Regions from separate parts of the Homo sapiens genome. Here region 2 is linked to region 1. Evidence: fine-mapped expression QTL. A gene starts in region 1. The other region holds a variant in brackets. All regions are shown on one strand. Distances are between the middles of the regions. Region 1 holds the start of BST1 (bone marrow stromal cell antigen 1). Region 2 has its middle 35 kb from the start of BST1.

Region 1 (9,630 bases):
TCCTAAAGTGTCAAGTGCCTCAAAAACACATTGCTTTTATATTATACTTTATAGTTTCCACCATAGTGTTTTTATATAACAATAACACAAATCCCCCAGTCACTATTTCATCTGACCCTCAGTAGTCCAATCAGTTTATATTTAGACTAGAAGGTCCCCAAGGGTGAGGGCTGTTTTTCACTGTTACATCCTTAACCCTTAGCACCAATGACTGGCAAACAAATAGCCCCGGAAGTATTTACTGAGTTCATCAACTAGCACCGAATCTATGAAACAGAAGGTTAAAAAGTCAGCTTCCCCACTTTTAGTGACAGGAGGGCAGCAAGGTTCAAAAGACAGCATATACTCAAAAATCATGTTTTCAGTCTATTCTATCTTTGAACCTCACAGTTCCATTTACTTGCCTTTACAAATAACACACAATGGAAAAAATCAGGTTAACAATGTTTATGTCACAGAAACAAAAATGGTGTCTAGCATTCCTTAAACTTGAGGTATTGTTTTAAGCAAGGGTTTTATGGAAATTTTCTCATTATTTTCATTTTATTAGACCTGAGAGTGTATACAGAATATAGATATGTGGTTTTCTTAAATAAACTGGTACTAAATAAATATAATCTTAAGACCCGTTAAATGGAGAGACTGGTCTCCCGGGAGGATACTGAGATTGAGAGTTTTCTGAATTACTCAAGGTTCAGGCCATTGGGCCAGTTAGGATGAAGGTTATTTAGAACTGGCCAGATGTGGAGGCCCAGTGTGACAGGTATGGCCATGTCCTGATGTCCTCATGTTGATTCTCACACTAACTTGCTAACTTAGGAAATTTTCTTCTGCCCACAACCAGCGGGAGATCTACAATCACTATTGGAAACTGATATGATTTGGATTTGTGTCTCTTGTAAAATTGTAATCCCCTATGTTGGAGGTGGGGCCTGGTGTGAGGTGATTGGATTATGGGGGTGGATTTCCCCCTTTGCTGCTGTTCTCCTGAGGGAGTTCTCAGAAGATCCAGTTGTTTACAAGCCTGTGGCACCTCCCTCTGCCCTTGGTCCTGCTCGTGCCATGTAAGACACCTGCTCCCACTTTGCCTTCTGCTGAAGTAAAAGCTCCCAGAGGCCTCCCAGAAGTAGATGTTGCCATTCTTCCTGTACAGCCTGTGGAACTGTGAACCAGTTAAACCTCTTTTCTTTGTAAATTACCCAGTCTCAGGCATTTCTTTATAGCAATGTGACAACGGACTAATACAGAAACAAAGCTAGCTTCCCACAGAGAGCTCAGCACACACATTATGTGTGCTGCCTGATGTTTCTGTGACATTGCAGGATGCAGGGGACAGCTAATGTCAACCTGGCCCATGCACCATCCATTTCTGTAGAGACAGAGAACACAGTTTTACCCAAGATGGTTGTGGTGTTACCTTATCTCTGGGAATAGAGTGCCTGGACAAGTTAATAAAAAGGTCATAGTCTGAGGGCAGCACGGAGCAGGGATCCTTGTCCAGCGCCACTTTAAAGGCTTCCCAGATGGCTGTGCAGTTCTTGTTCCTGTGCAAAAGTACAAGTTGGGAAGAACACACACATGCACATCATAATGTGTTGTGAAGTATGCCCATTTGTCTAAGAGCTTTACAAGAGATTTTTCATATAGTAACTGCAGAAGTAGGCTTACAAAAAAGACAACGAATTGTCATGGCTTAGGTGACAGATTCAGAAATCTGACACTGGAATTGTCTCTCTGAAGGCACTGCACAGATTTCTCAGAGCTAAGGAATACAGCCTTGCCCCAGGCTCACGGAGACAAGCAGAAATGGCACCGAGCAGGAGGTGACAAATTCAGTCAACTATACAGCAGGTGCCTCTTCATTTAGACCTAACGGTGGGGCCAGTCTCATAGTCCAGTTCCAGTGTGGAGCTCGGGGACCAGGTGAGGCCAGGCCAGCCAGCAGGATGTGTAGTGTTAGGAGGGAGGCCCAATGCTGCAAAAGGCTTCCACCTCTGGCAAAGCAGGTGCACCCTCCAGTGCAAGCCCCTCTTGAGGTCCATGCTAGTTTTCAAAAAATATTTCCCATAGCATTTGTAACTTTGTTTCTCATACTGGGTGGTGTGTAACACAGGTGGTTCTCTGCTGTTTCTTATTTGCCTGAAATGTGCGACAATAAAAATGATCAGCACAAGAAAGACATCACAAACATAAGAAAAGGGGGGCCACAGAAGGAACAAAAATCAGTAAGAAATGCAGCACTGGCAAGAAAGACCCAAACTTCAGAAATCCTCCAGATTTAGGGGATCTGAAATTTGAATTCTGGAAGGACTGGACTCAAGGAATTCCAACCTGAGATCACATTCTGGGTTCTGAGTATTCAGACTAAACATCTGCTGGGTGGCAATGGGCTGTTACCCAGTTCACCTCTACCCCACCCTCACTTCTAGAGGGATACCTCTCCACCCTCCTTCACACTCACACACACCTCTCACCTCTAGACCACACACACATCCCTCACCTCTAGACCACACACACATCCCTCACCTATAGACCACACACACACACCTGTCACCTCTAGACTACACACACACACCCCTCACCTCTAGAACAAACACACACACATCTCACCTCTAGAACACACACACAACTCACCTCTAGAACACACACACACACACATCCCTTACCTCTAGAACACACACACCTCTCACTTCTAGAACACACACACCCATCATCTCTAGAACACACACATCTCACCTCTAGAACACACACCCCTCAACTCCAGAACACACACACACCCCTCACCTCTAGAACACACATACACACCTCATCTCTAGAACACACACTCTCCTCAGCTCTAGAATACACATACACCCCCTCACCTCTAGAACACACACACCCCTCACCTCTAGACCACACACACATCCCTCACCTCTAGACCACACACACATCCCTCACCTATAGACCACACACACACACCTGTCACCTCTAGACTACACACACACACCCCTCACCTCTAGAACACAGATACACACACACCTCTAGAACACATGCACGCACCCCTCACCTCTAGAACACACACACACACATCTCACCTCCAGAACACACACACCCCTCACTTCTAGAACACACACACCCCTCACCTCTAGAATACACACACCCCTCACCTCTAGAGCGCACGCACACACACCCCCTTCACCTCTAGAACACACATGCACACACCCCTCACCTCTAGAACACACATACAGACACCTCACCTCTGGAACACACACACCCCTTACCTCTAGAACACACACACACATCTCACCTTTAGAACACACACACACACCCCTCACCTCTAGAGCACACACACACACACACACCCCCACCTCTAGAGCACACACACACACATCCACCTCTAGAGCACACACACACCTCCCACCTCTAGAGCGCGCGCACACACACACCCCCCTCACCTCTAGAACACACGCACACACCCCTCACCTCTACAGTGTGTGTGTGCGCGCACACACACACACTCATCTCTAGACCCCGCACAGCGCACCCCTCACCTGCAGACACACTTCACAGCCCCCTCCTCACTCGCCCCCATCGTTCAGGACCATCGCTGTCTCCACACTCACCTCTCCCCTCAAGGCCTCTCTCATTGCCCCCTCACCCCGAACTTTAGCGCCAGTTTTCCCCTCCCCAGGCCCTCCCCACCGTTGCCTCTTTCCGGCTCCCCTTCCACCCGGCCGACTGCCTCACCGCTGCTCGGGACTCAGCAGTGCGCGGTACTCGGCGCAGCGGCCCAGGAAGATGTCCCGCAAGTGTGCGCTGGTGCCCTCCCCGCGCCACCGCGCGCGCGCCCCGCCCGCCGCCAGCAGCAACAGTAGAAGCAGAAGCTGCAGCAGCAGCTGGAGCAGCCGCGATGCCGCGCACCCCTGGGCCGCCATCGGGGAACTTTGGTCCCTCCAGTCCCGTGCTTCCTCCACTCCCCTTCTCTCCTTCTACCAAGGCGGTTCCGCAAACTGATGCAGGGCGGGACTCTCGCTCGGATATCTCGCTGTTTGCCGTTTCCCGTTCCAGACAATTTCAAGACTGAGCGTGGGGCGGGGCGCGGCGGCTCATGCCTGTAATCCCAGCACTTTGAGAGGCCTAGACGGGCGGATCGCTTGAGTATAGGAGTTCGAGACAAACCTGAGTAACATACAGGTGAGAAACCTCCTCTCTACAAAAAAATACAAAACTTAGCTGGTCCTGGTGGTGCGCATCTGTAGTCTCAGCTACCTGCGAGGTGAGATGTGAGGAGGCTTGACCCCAGGGGATCGAGGCTGCAGCGAGCAGTGATTGCACCACTGCACTCCAGCCCTGGGCGACAGAGTGAGACTCTGTCTAAAAAAAAAATTAATAAATAAATAAAATTAAAAAAGAGTGAGCTTGGAACATCACCCAGGACAGGACCAGTGCACTGTGGCCCAGGCTAATCTTGACCGCTGTCCACGGGGAGGGAGCCCCAAAGAAGCCGCAAGGTTGAAGGAGAGGTGAGGAGAGGTCAGTCATCATCAGAAGAAATACTTTTCTGGCTCCAAAGGACGACAACTTTGACAGATGCCCTCTTTCACACCAACCAATAAGTGGTGTTTGTTTGTTTTCAGGAAATAATAACCACAACAACGTGCCAAGCACTTTGCAAGTATAATATTAATTACTTTCCGCAACACCCTTCCTAGCTAAGTTTGTAATTTCTCTCGCTTTAGCAATGGATAAACTCAGGGAAGTTAAGCATGTTCGGCCCTCCAGATTTGCGGATTCATCATCCAAATTCAGCTAACCACGGATGAGAAACATTTGAGGAAAAAAAGAATGCTTGCATCTGTACGGAACATGTACGGACTTTTTTTTCCTTGTCATCATTCCCTAAATAATCCAATGTAACAACTACTTATGTAACAATTACATAGTACTTGATATTACAAGGAATCTGGAGATGACGTGAATTATAGAAGAGGATGTGCAAATACTGTATACTACACCATTTAATATAAGGGCCTTGAGCATCTGTGGATTTTGGTATCCAGGAGGTTCCTGGAACCAATTCTCCATGGATACCTACCGCCGACTGTAACTTGTCAGAGGTCACAATATCCCTTCCTGATAGATGCAAAATCCTGGAGATGTTCAGTTTAAGAGAGCCAGGATTGGCCGGGCGCGGTGGCTCACACCTGTAATCCCAGCACTTTGGGAGGCCGAGGCGGGTGGATCACGAGGTCAAGAGATCGAGACCATCCTTGCTAACACGGTGAAACCCCGTCTCTACTAAAAATACAAAAGATTAGCCAGGCGCGGTGGCGGGCGCCTGTTGTCCCAGCTACTCGGGAGGCTGAGGCGGGAAAACGGCGTGAACCCAGGAGGCAGAGCTCGCAGTGAGCCGAGATCGGGCCACTGCACTCCAGTCTGGGCAACAGAGTGAGACTCCGTCTCAAAAAAAAAAAAAAAAAGAGCCAGTATTAATAGAATACCACGTGGAGGCCCAAGTCCTCAATTCTTACAATAATGACAGCAATGAACTTTGAGTGCCTGGCAAGCACTTGATAAACACAAGGGAGGACAGAACAGGTGTTCTCTACTGTTTTATTTGAATCTCTTTTTTTCTGTAACCAAAACCCGCATTCTCCTGTTCAGTTCCTCCTTAAGTTAAATCCACTTTCCAGAGGAAAGCATTTTTAATTCTTTCAAGTTTTGTTCCTGTGTTTACTTCCATATTTCTAAATAACATGTGTGAACCCGCAAATTTTGAGACAGGTCTCAATTAATTTAGAAAGTTTATTTTAGCAAGGTTGAGGACACGTGTCCATGACACAACCTCAGGAAGTCCTGACGACATGTACCCAAGGTGGTCAGGGCACAGCTTGGTTTTATACATTTTAGGGAGACATGAGATATCAATCAATATATGTAAGAAGTACATTGGTTCTGTCCAGAGAGGCGGGGACAACTCGAAGCACGGAGGGGGCTTCCAGGTCTCAGGTAGGTGAGAGACAAATGGTTGCCTTCTTTTGAGTTTCTGATAAGCCTTTCCAAAGAAGGCCATCAGAATATGCATATATCTCAGTGAGCAGCTGAATGACTTTGAATAGAATGGGAGGCAAGTTTGCCCTGAGCAGTTCCCAGCCTGACTTTTCCCTTTAGTTTAGTAATTTTGGGGCATCCCTGGCATGGCTCGTCCCACCAAATCTAATGTGAAATTGTAATCCCCAACGTTGGAGGTGGGGCCTGGTGGGAGGTGATTTTATCATGGGTGTGGGTTTCTCAAGAATAGTCTAGCACCATCCCCTTGTTGCTATTCTCATGATAGTAAGTGAGATCTGGTTGTTTTAAACTGTGTAGCACTGGCAGGGCGCCGTGGCTCACACCTGTAATCACAGCAGTTTGGGAGGCTGGTGTGGGGGGTGTGTTGGGAATCACGGATCGAGACCATCCTGGCCAACATGGTGAAACCCCATCTATACTAAAAATACAAAAATTAGCTGGGCGTGGTGGCACGCACCTGTAGTCCCAGCTCTTCGGGAGGCTGAGGCAGAAGAATCGCTTGAACCTGGGAGGCGGAGGTTGCAGTGAGCTGAGATCTCACCACTGCACTCCAGCCTGGTGACAGAGTGAGACTCTGTCTCAAAAAAAAAAAAAAAAGAAGTGTGTAGCACCTCCTCCCTCTCTCTTGCTCCCTGCTGCCACCGTGTAAGACCCATTGCTCCCCCTTTGCCTTCCACCACATTTGGAAACTTCCTGAAGCCTCTCCAGATGCAGAAGCCACTATGCTTCCTACAGCCTGCAGAACTGTGAGCCAATTCAACCTCTTTTTCTTATAAATGAGCAGTTTCAGGTATCTATAGCAATGCAAGAACAGACTAATACAATACCTATATGCTATTTCTTGATGTTTCTGTTTGGGACATTATTCTGTTTGGGACATTATGACATTTTATTTGTTGTAAACCTCTTGTTTACCCTGGAGGTAATCATTATCTAGAAAGTAACTAGCTTGCTTTTGATATTACAGGCTCATAGGCAGAAGGCATTTGCCTTGTCTCAGATGAAACTTTGAACTGTGGACTTTTGGGCTAATGTTGAAGTTAAGACTTTGAGGGTCTGTTGAGAAGGCATGATTGGTTTTGAAATGTGAGGATGTGAGATTTGGAGGGGCCGGGGTGGAATGATATGGTTTGGCTGTGTCCCCACCCAAATCTCAACTTGAATTGTATCTCCCAGAATTCCCACGTGTTGTGGGAGAGAGCTAGGTTGGGGTGGGGGTGGGGAGGCAGGGTGGGAGTAATTGAATCATGGGGGCCGGTCTTTCCCATGCTATTCTGGTATTCTGGTGATAGTGAATAAGTCTCACAAGATCTGATGGGTTTATCAGGTGTTTCCACTTTTGCTTCTTCCTCATTTTTCTCTTGCCGCTGCCATGTAAGAAGTGCCTTTCACCTCATGCCATGATTCTGAGGCCTCCCCAGCCATGCAGAACTGTAAGTCCAATTAACCCTCTTTCTGTTCCCAGTTTCAGGTGTGTCTTTATGAGCAGCATGAAAACGAACTAATACAACTAGATCTCACATCCTCCTCTTTCTTGTTTTATGGAGCACATCTTCCAATAGCTTCTTGAGAAGATACACAGGGACTAAACTTTCTGAGATTTTTTGCATAAGAATTCAAAATGTCATTATTCTACCTTCACACTTAATTGAGAATTTGATTGGATGTCTGAGATTTTTGCATAAGAATTCAAAGTGTCATTATTCTAACCTCACACTTGATTGAGAATTTGGTTGGGTACATTTTTGCATTGGAAAGCATTTCCCTTCAAAATTTTGAAGACTGTGTTCCATTGTTTTCTGTGTTGCTGTTGAGAAATCTGAACCCATTTTCCTATTCCTGTTTATTTGACCTTTTTTGTTGTTGTTTGTTTTGTTTTTTATTCTTTGGCCTGTTTTTTTTCTATCTGGAAATTTTCAGAATTTCCTTCTATTCTTAGGAGTATGAAATTTCAGAGATGAAGTTGGGCAAAAGTAGTTGTTTTTCATTGTACTGGACAATCCATGAGCCCTTTTAACCTACAAACTCATGTCTTTAAATACTGAGATATTTTCTCAATTTTTTGGTAATTTCCCCTCCTCCAAATTCTGTTTTCTCTTTCTGAAATTCCTGTTACTCATATAGGAATGATTTCCTTGTTAGACTTCCTAGTCTTTAATTTTCTATATTTTCACCTTTTTTCTTTGTCTTCTTATACTTTCTTGAATATAAATTTATCATTATCTTCCAACTTCTCTGTTGCTTTTTTAAATTTATACTATATATATATATATATATATATATATATATATATACTTATATATACAGTTGTGTTCTACACGTTCAGGTCTTTTTGCTTTTTATAATCTTCTCTTGCTGTTTTGTGAATATTTCTGAGGCTTTTATTACAGATGTAGGTTTTTCATTTTTCTTTTAAATTTTCTTCTGCCAATGTCTGTTTCCTTTGAGTGCCTTATTTCCATTTTGGTGACTGGCTTTAATGTGAGAAGTTTCCCTCAAATAAACTGATGACCTTTGGCTGATTATTTTTACAAACACAGAAAAACATAAGGAACAGTATTAGTTCATTGTCGCACTGCAGATAAAGACATACCTGAGACTGGGTAATTTGGCAGAAGGCAACAGGCACGTCTTACATGGCAGTAGGCAAGAGACAGCTTGTGCAGGGGAACTCCTCTTTATAAAACCATCAGATCTTGTGAAACTTATTCACTATTATGAGAATGGGAAAGACCCACCCCCATGATTCAATTACCTCCCACCGAGTCCCTCATATGACATGAGGGAATTGTGGGAACTACAATTCAAGATGAGATTTGGTTGGGGACGCAGCCATACCATATCAGGCACTAATTAGAAGCAGGCTCAAGGCAAATGGTCAGAGTTTGTCAAAGGGTGGGCTGCCCTGTAGGATGAACATACTGCACTTTATCACTAAGAGATACCTGTCATTTTCTCTTGGACAGTCCGTTTTTCCAGAGAGTAATATTCCTTTTTTTTTTTTTTTTTTTTTTTTTGAGACAGAGTCTCGCTCTGTTGCCCAGGCTGGAGTGTAGTGGCGTGATCTCGGCTCACTGCAAGCCCTGCCTCCTGGATTCATGCCATTCTCCCGCCTCAGCCTCCCAAGTAGCTGGGACTACAGGCGCCCACCACCACACCTGGCTAATTTTTTTTGTATTTTTAGTAGAGACGGGGATTCACCATGTTAGCCAGGATGGTCTTGATCTCCCGATCTCGTGATCCACCCGCCTCAGCCTCCCAAAGTGCTGGGATTACAGGCGTGAGCCACTGTGCCTGGCCTAATATTCCTATTTTCTACCTGGAAGGATATATGCCTGGATGATAGCAATGTGGAGCTGAGTGGGGGAAGGTGGCTGGGAGAATCTCACTATTCAGTATAAAGATTTTCACTTATCCCTCCTCTCTCACCACATTTTTAGTAGAAGCTCTGGCCTCACTGATGCCTGGTACCCCACAACCTAGAATCTTTGGTCTACTCTTCAGGAAATATGTTGCTGCACAGGATTAGGGAGGGCATTCTTGGACTTCCAACTACTTTTTTGACTTCCAGCCCTACAT
Region 2 (9,630 bases), 35 kb before region 1:
GAGCCAAAGTATGCAAAGAGATCACATGGCAGTAGGGGAAGCCAAGGAGGGAGGGAGACAGGTGCCAGGCTCTTTTTAACAGCCAGCTCTCAAGGGAACTAAGACAGTGAGAACTCACACACCCATCCCCAAGGGAGCACAGTAATTAATTCATGAGGGGTTGACCCCCATGACCCAAACACCTCCCAGTAGACCCCACCTCTGAACATTGCCACATTGAGGATCAAATCTCAGCATGAAGTTTGGAGGGACAAACATTCAAACCATAGCAAACTTAATCTGGCTTAAATAATAAAGAGGATTCCTTGATGAGCAAGAGAAGAGACCACCTTCTTCTCCATCTCAAACCCTGAAAAACTGCTTCTGGGCTTGTCACAGCTTTGGCAGCAGAGCTGAGCATGTTAAAATAAAATGGAGTTTTATTTGTTTGTACTGTATGTTGGTGAAGGAGGCAGCAGCAACAGAGACCGGGGCGTTATGCACCAACCATATTATGCATCTGGAGATTCCCAGAGCAGCAACTGGGACAGGGACTACTGAATCCCTCAGACTTTAGGCCATAAGCCAATGAACATTTACTGTAAAAGGTGAGATAATACTTTTCGCTTTGCGGGCCATGCAACCTCTGTTGCCACTGCTCAACTCTGCAATAGCTCAGAAGCGGAATAGATAAGCACAAACTAATGAGCATGGCTGAGTTCCAGTAAAACTTTATACACTAAAATTTGAGCTTCATGTAGTTTTCAGACGCCATGAAATAATGTTCTTCTTTTGATTTTTTTCAACCATTTAAAAATGGAAAACCCACGTGTGTCTTTGGGGTTGTACAAAAGCCAGAATGGGCCCCTGCTATGGGCCATTGACACATGCTCTCAATAAGGCTGTGAATTAGAGGTTTCCCTGCACACAATGTTGTAAGCCCCTTGGAGGTTTGGAGATTCCAGCATCTATGACTGATTTTTCATGAAGGTTATTGAGGATGTGAACAGAATGTTTCAGTACTTTCCCCATCCATCTGCCTCAGCTTTCCTCTTCCTACCCTTCCTCCCTTATCAGGAAGCACTTCTATAATAATAGGATTGCTAGGAGCACAGAATTCTCGGGCCATGTTTTACTCCTGGACAAGGTTACTCTACTCCAAGTATGGTGTCCTCCCTGGCCTGTCCACTCTAGCTGTAGACAGGGATGGCCCCTAGAGGGAAGCCTGCCAATCCAGCTGTTACATAATGACAGCTGATCTCCAATCTGTGATTCTACTTGTCTGTAGCAGCCCCGTTTGACAACTTTGTTGGAGGAGGAGTGAGTAACGGCCAAATTCAATCTTTTGTCGCTAGATATAATACCAAAAAAACTGTCACTGCTCTTCCCAAGACTCCTAATCAATATCATCAGTAAATATTGGCTGAGTAAATATATGCAACCTCTGTCACAACTACTCAACTCTGCGGTTCATGACGGATAATGAACCCTGTGGACCCCTCACGAACCACGGAGTTGAGTAGTTGCGACAGAGGTTGCATGGCCAGCAAAGCTAAAAGTATTACTTCACCTTTTACAGAAAATGTTCATTGGCCTATGGCCTAAAATCTGAGGGATTCAGTAGTCCCCGTCCCAGTTGCTGCACTGGGAATCTCCAGACGGATAGTTTGGCTTGTAAATAATGCTCCAGCCTCTGTTGCTGCTCCTTCTTCACCAACATATAAGAAATAAAATTACATTTTATTTTAATATCCTCAGCTCTGCTGTCAAATATTTGTTATAATTTAACAAATTAATAAATTTGTTAAATAAGGTGCAAATGCTGAAGACAAACTCAGTAGTTGAGAACATAAACCTTTGTATAGATTAGTCTCCCTACCTGAAAATATTTCCAATCCACCCCCTCACACCTTCACCTCTCATCTGGCTAATAGCTCTCGTTTTTTCAGGTTCAACTTAAGGAAGACTTTCTCTGGAAAGCCTCCTCTCCCGATACTAGACTATGTTAGGTTTCCCCCAGTGCACAATCCCAAAGGACTCTGTTTCATCTTCATCCCACAAATGAAAGTAGATAATAACTACTAATTTAGGCCCGACATGGTGGCTCATGCCTATAATCCTAGCACTTTGGGAACCCAAGGCGGGCAGATCACTGTGGTTAGAAGTTTGAGACCAGCCTGGTCAACATGGCAAAACCCCGTCTCTAGCAAAAAGAATACAAAAAATTAGCCAGGCATAGTGGCGTGTGCCTGTAGTCCCAGCTGCTAGGGAGGCCGAGGCATGAGAATCACTTGAACCTGGGAGGCAGACGTTGCAGTGAGACGAGACGGTGCCACTGCACTCCAGCCTCGGTGACAGAACGAGATTCAGTCCCCCCTGCCCCCAACTAATTTAGTTATCAGCCAGTGAGGATCAGGAGATACACTCTCTCCCTGTCTCTCTCTATCCTTATCTCTCTCTCTCTCCCTTCTTCCCTCTCTTTCTCTGTCTCTCTCTGTTTCTCTGTCTGTCTGTCTCTCTCTCTGTCAATGTCTCCCTCTCCTTTTCTCTCTCTCACCGACTTCCCTCCCTCCCTTTCTCCTTCCCCCTCCTACCACCAAATTTTATTACTAGCAGCAATGGTGAACAATGACTTCACTCTGATTATATTTCTGTACACATCTTTTTACCCTACAAAATTTAATCGAGTTTAATGTGTTCCCCTGAGAGCTTGTCACTGTATGTTAACTATTTTAAAATTTTACAAGCACCATCTTAGAGTTACTGTGTCACATGTCCTATAGCAAAGTCATGAAGGTGCAGCTGGCACAAGTCAAATGAAAACCCTTCTACTTTTGTGCAGGGGAGAAATACACACACACACACACACACACACACACACACACACACACGGTTTGGCTTCTTAACATGCATTTTTCTCAAATAAGTAAGTCATTTCAGTGAAGAGTTTGGGTAATTCTGACAGCTACCCTTTAATAGCTACATGATAAAAGAAGTTCCAAAGAACCAAATCACGTAACAAAGAATACATGTGCTTTAGAGAACCTGCTGCATTCTACATCTTTTAGGGGGAAAAACAAAACTATATTCCTAAAATTCTAAGCGGAGTGATTTAATACATATACGTTTCATATTGAAACATGTTTTAAAGAGACTACCAAGAAAACACAAATACATAAGACTTCAAGTAATGAGTAATTATGGTGAAATTAGCATAGTTCAGATTTTCCAACCTGCTTCATTGGTTATGCATGTGGGTGTTTGAAACCCTTGCCAGGTCTTTAAAAACAAGCTCCCAGTCTCAGCAATAGCTGTGCCCTGTTCTCCAGCATGGGCTTTCAATTTGCCCTTCTCTTTGGTGCCAAAAGTCTCCTGAGAAGAGTAAGGCTGAGTTCTGGGTTTCAAATGCCTGTGAATTAAGTTCTAGCAACTGCAGAGTCTCCAATGATGATTCATTGTCCTGAGTTCCACTTTCTCACCCTGGGAAACTTCAGAAAGACTGAAATGGAAATGAGCATTAGGAGCTAGGTCCGCTTGCCTGGGCTGTCTCTCAGGTTAGTGGAACTGGGATTACTTCTCAATCAGCCATGTTCATTTGGCACCTTTGGCAAACCTCAATTTTCACAGCAGGAGAAATAAAAAAAGCTAGTGTTCACTTGGCACATGCCTGCTTCTAGTCTTTACTTTGGAAATTTTCATTGTTGTGTTAGCTTACCAGGGTGGCCATAACGAACTATGAATTTGAGGGAACACAGTTCCGTCTGTAACAATCGTGTGGAAGCTGAACTTCAAACAGGTAAGCTATCAGCTGGCTAACGTGTGGTCATTCCCACTTCCCATCAAGGTTTTTTATTTTTATTTTTATTTTTTTATCAAACTCTCTTGCCTTCCAACATATATTTTTAAATCAAACAATATTTAGGAATGTTTTTAGGATCTTTTTCTCCTTTTATACTGACCAACATCATAGACTCCTCACCCTGTTTAACATCTTTGTATTCTCCGGTCTTTGTGAATGTCCCTCTGCTACCTTACTAGACACACCAGACTGACCGACTCTCTTATCAAAGAATGACTTATAGACGTCATTATTCTTTTTCCCAAGTGTCTGAAATTCCTTTTCAAATTAGGCTTTCATTTTTTTGAATAGGCTTTAATGTTTAGAGCAGTTTTAGGTTCACAGCAAATTTGAGCAGAAAGTACAGAGCTTCCCACATACGCTCTGTCCCCACACATACATAGCCTCCCCCACTGGCAGCATCCCCACCAGAGTGGTGGAGTGGTGCATTTGTCACAACTAATGAACCGACATTGAAACATCATGGTCACCCAGCCTCTGTAGTTTACCTGAGGGTTCACCCTTGGTGTTGTACCTTCTGTAGGTTTGGACACATATATAATCACCTGTATCCACAATTCTAGTATCATGCAGAGTATTTTCACCACCCTAAATATTTGGGAGTCCATTTTATCCTGTTTCCTCTGAAGCTTGTGGAGAGCATTCATGTGGACGGAGCTGGACTAGGCAGGCATGCAATTGACTCAACTCTTGCCAGAGCCTCTGGAGATTTCGGCTTCCTTGCTGTGGGAGTGGAAGGCATTTACATCTTTGGACTCTCTGACAGTCAGTATCTTCCCCATCATGGTTCCCACAGTTTCCTGTTCAGGTTCAGAAAGTACCTTGTTACCAAGTCTATCGTGCTAGAGGGAATACAGCCAAGTGTAAGGTACCTGGTACCTACGACAGGAGAGGAAAGAGAACTCAGTTCTTCATGTGCCCACCCAGTCCTTGTGCTCAGGGGTCTTCCATGTGCATTTCTCTTTTGGTCAAATGCTTAGCATTGTTCATTCACTTGGTAGAAGAGCATTAAGTACCCATTAAGTGTGCCAGGCATGGAGCTGGTGCTGGGACCTGTTTGTTGAAGACACACGAGGCTGGTTTTCTTAGCTGCTTTTGCCAGGGCTCCCTGCTGCCCCCTTGCTGCCCAGACCATGGAGGAACCGAGGCCAAGAGAGGTGACCTTGGCCAAGTAAGAAAAGCTTTCTATGTCTATGTTTTCTCATCTGTAAAATAGGATAATAAGAGAATTGATCCTATGGGGTCGAGTGAGGATTGAAAGGGGCCATTTATGAAAATACTTCACACAGTGCCCAGTGCACAGTAACTTCTGATCTGCAGAGAGTGCTGTATTGCAGATGGTGTTTAGACAGCTATCAAACAACTCTAGTAGTAGTAACAATAACACTAGCAAATAACACTTATACAGGGCTGA[T/C]CTACTATACTCCTGGCACTGTTCTGGGTTCTTTATGCACATTCGCTCATTGAATTATGAGTACTTATAATCCCTACTTACACACACGGTGATGCAGCTCAGGTAAGGTAAGTGAGTTGCCCAAGGCTACACAGCGAGCAAGTGCTGAAGGTAGGATGTGGGCCAACCTGTTAGGTGCCAGAGTCCATGCTCTTGGCCACAATGTTAGGCTGCCTCCCCATTTCCTTTGTCTTGATTCCCCAAACCCAAGGTTCTCACCCAATCTGATCAAATGCTGACTAGGTCATGGCTGGTCAGGGTAAAGCATTATGACAGACACAAAGACAAAGAGGTAAAGTTGCTGTCCTCAAGAGAGAGAGACATAAAAACAAATGGATCTGGAACTAAGTAAGGCTTCGAGGAGGAGGTGAGCAAAGGTACCAGATCCAAAGGCTTATGTTGAGAATACGGAACTGAGAGAAGGTTCATGGAGAGTGCAGTGGGGTCTCCTGGGACACAGACCTAGTAAGGCAGTTTAGGGGCAAATGGAAAGATCTTGAATCGCAGATTTTTTTTTTTTTTTGGAGACAGAGTCTCACTCTATCACCCAGGCTGGAGTGCAGTGGAGCAATCTAGGCTCACTGCAACCTCTGTGTCCTTGGTTCAAGCAGTTCTCCTGCCTCAACCTTCAGAGTACCTGGGATTACAGGCACGTGCCACCACGCCCAGCTAATTTTTGTATTTTTAGTACATACAGGGTTTCACCATGTTGTCCAGGGCTCCTGACCTCAAGTGATCTGCCCACCTTGGCCTCACAAAGTGCTGGAATTATAGGCAGGAGCCACTGCGCCCGGCTTCTTGAAGAGCAGATTTTAAAATTTGAAATTTGTCTTGCCAAGGGTAGGAAACCATTGCTGATTTTGAGCAAGAGGACGATGCACTCAGGACCCTAGCGTAGGACATTGCTCTGGCAGCATTGTGGAAGTTAGGCTGAAGGAGAAACCAAGCAGAAGCAGAGAGATCAGTCAGGAGGCAATGATATGTTTGAAACCCATGATTTACCTTGTACAAAGGCTAGAACCGGCGGTTGTATGGTTCTGCTCTGGGTCGCACTCCTAATGTCCCACATAGCCTCTTGGGTCTATAAATATAAATATGTGCATAAAAACACATAGAAAAATGTCTGCTACTCTGCGTGCAGTATGACAGATGAGATTTGCCTTCTTCCTAATTTTTCTGTATTGTGTAGATTTTTTTCAAGTAAAGAGCCATTATTACTCTTATATTCGGGAAAAAAGTGAAGTTATGTTTAGTTTTTAAAAATAAAGCCTTATTTTTCTTATGGAACTCAAAATGGCATTTCTCTAATTGAGTCGCAGGTCACTGTGCTGTGAGTGGCTAAGTCGCCTGGTAACCCAGGCAACATGAAGGCAGCAGACACTGTGTTTTCCAAGCTTGGTCTAAGAGACGCCCCTTGGCTGGGGCTCCCATGGGATTGGCCTAAGGAGCCAGACGGTCCTGAGACAAACCATGAATTATGAATTGGAAGTTGGTTGGTTGGGTCCTTTTCTCTTTCTCTAAGTACCCAAAAGTCTTATGCTGCTTGTCATCTTCCCTCACGGCTCCCCTCACACACCCTAGCAATATCACACACTTCAAGTGTTTTATGAAAGTATGCCATAAATACAGAAAAGCATGCCACACCTTGTTATTAAGCTTCCCTTGTACCCTCCCTGGCCTCCTCCAACAAAAGAAAGCTAAAGAATCCCCCACCCTCTGTTTTCCTCTATTAAACTTAGTTCATTCACACGTGGAAGGTCTACTTCATCCAAGCAGGGCTAGGCTAGGGCTGCAAAGATGAGTGAGTCTGCAAAGAAGCCACAGTCCCAGGGTGAAGTTAGGCAAGGACCCAAACAATGCTGACACCATGAAGATGGGCCCTGTTAGGGAATTCTTTGCTTTTTTGCAGGGAGAGAGGTCAACAGAAGGATCCAGGGAGGAGGTGATGCTTAAGGTATGTCTTAGAGTCTGCCAGATGGGAGACAGGGCAGGAAGGAAAATCAACACAGAGAGACCAACATGTTCAAAGACCCTGAGGAGGGAGAGAGTAGAGAGCACGTCTGGGTAGAGCACCAAGCAACTTGGTTAGAGGAGCCCAGCTGAGCACACCTTCTGTAAGAAGCTAATACCGCTTTTACAATACACACCAGTGTCTACACCAAATGAACATTCTACCATGCCAGGTTTTCATGGATTTCATTCCTCTGCAGTCTCACTTCCCAAAGTCTCTTTCCTTAACCCTTCTGAGCGTGGCCTGGTTCCCGCTCCTGCCTGCTCCCTGTGGCAGTGTCCGACTGAAACCAGCCCAGCTGTCCCAGAGAAGTGATGTCTACTGTTTTTTGGATAAACATGAAAATTGACCCTCTCATCTAAGATTGAAACTTACATTTGTCTTATCTGAATTCCTTCTTCAGGAAACTGACCCTTAGGCAACCAGTTAGTATCAAGGAACCGAAACTCACCAGACCACCACATCCACACAATTAGATGCCAGACCCTTCATCCATCATGACTCCTGTTTAGCAGCTTCTCTTCCTTACCCCTCCCCCATTCCTGTTTTCTCACATATAGTTACATTTCCTTCCTGCTATGTAAACCCCTAAGTTTAGTCGACTGGTGGAGGAGACAATTTTGAGAATGATTTCCCGTATATATATTATATTTTAATATATTAAATTTGTATCATACTTTAGACATTTTCATCATATAATTAAGTTTTATATTTTATCTCTTACACATTTTCCTATGTGATTAAATGTTCTTTGAAAACATTTCTTTTTGGTTTACATAAAATAAAATTTACTCTTTTTCATGTACAGGGCCATGAGTGTTGACGAACACTTGGATTCATGCAATCACCACCACAATCAAGACACAGAGCAGCTCCATCGCTCCCAAAATTTTTCTCAGTGTCACTTTGCAGTCAGCGCCTCCTTCTAGTCCTGATCATTCTCAACCCCCACAATCACTGGTCTGCTCTCCGCTACTATAGTTCTGCCTTCTCGAGGATGTCATATAAATAGAATCATACAGTTGGTGGCCTTTTGGTGCGGCAGCTCTCACATTTGGGTTTCATCCATATTGCTGCATATATCAAGGTAGTTACCTTTATTGCTGAGTAGTATTCCATGGTGTAGATTTACCAGTTAGTTTATTCCTTCACCATCTGAAGGACATGTGAATTGGTAAACATGGCTTTTACTTGTTGAATGATACTCCATTCTACAAATATTCTAAAACCCATGTAAATAGTTCTGATATGGTTTGGCTCTGTATCCCCACCTAAATTTCATATTGAATTGTGATCCCCAGTGTTGAAGGTGGGGTCTGGTGGGAGGTGATTGGATCACGGAGGTGGTTTCGGATGGTTTAGCACCATCACCTAGTGCTGTCTCATGACAGAGTTCTCACGAGATCTGGTGGTTTGAAAGCATGTAGCACCTCCCCCTTCACTCCCTTCCTCCTTCTCTGGCCATGTAAGACATGACTGCTTCCCTTTTGCCTTCCATGATGATCGTAAGTTTCCTGAGGCCTCCCCAGCCATGCTTCCTGTAAGCCTGTGGAACAGAGAGGTGAAGCCAGCTGGACTTCCTAGGTCGAGAGGGGACTTGGAGAGCTTTTCTGTCTAGCTAAAGGATTGTAAATGCACCGATCAGCACTCTGTGTCTAGCTAAAGGATTGTAAATGCACCAGTCAGCACTCTGTAAAAACACACCAGTCAGCACTCTGTGTCCAGCTAAAGGATTGTAAACGCACCAATCAGCACTCTGTGTCTAGCTAAAGGATTGTAAATGCACCAGTCAGCACTCTGTAAAAACACACCAGTCAGCACTCTGTGTCCGGCTAAAGGATAGTAAACACACCAATCAGCACTCTGTGTCTAGCTAAAGGATTGTAAATGCATCAATCAGCACTCTGTAAAATGGACCAATCAGCGCTCTGTAAAATGGACCAATCAGCAGGATGTGGGTGGGACCAAATAAGGGAATAAAAGCTGGCCACCGAGCCAGCAGTGGCAACCAGCTTGGGTCCCCTTCCACATTGTGGAAGCTTTGTTTTTTCGCTCTTCACAATAAATCTTGCTGCTGCTCACTCTTTGGGTCCGCACTACCTTTAATAGCTGTAACACTTGCCGCGAAGGTCCGCAGCTTCATTCTTGAAGTCAGCGAGACCACGAACCCACCAGAAGGAAGAAACTCCAGACACATCTGAAGGAACAAACTCTGAACACACCATCTTTAAGAGCTGTAACACTCACTGCAAAAGTCCATGGCTTCATTCTTGAAGTCAGCAAGACCAAAAACCCAGAGGTTGTCACAATTTTGTCACAATTCTGGAC

What was found.
Region 2: its variant is fine-mapped to the expression of BST1 in whole blood (INTERVAL, PIP above 0.99).

The regions. Positions count from the first base shown.
Region 1 is chr4:15,697,429-15,707,058 of GRCh38, reverse strand. BST1 (bone marrow stromal cell antigen 1) reads right to left here and starts at 3,994. Exons shown (of 9, transcript NM_004334.3): 1 at 3,727-3,994; 2 at 1,418-1,544. The coding sequence starts at 3,914. RefSeq lists a silencer at 3,976-4,055.
Region 2 is chr4:15,732,795-15,742,424 of GRCh38, reverse strand. It overlaps a transcript of BST1 not described here. Among named protein-coding and RNA genes, the nearest start is that of BST1, 35 kb to the right of the region's middle. The variant T/C (reference allele first, on the strand shown) is at 5,253.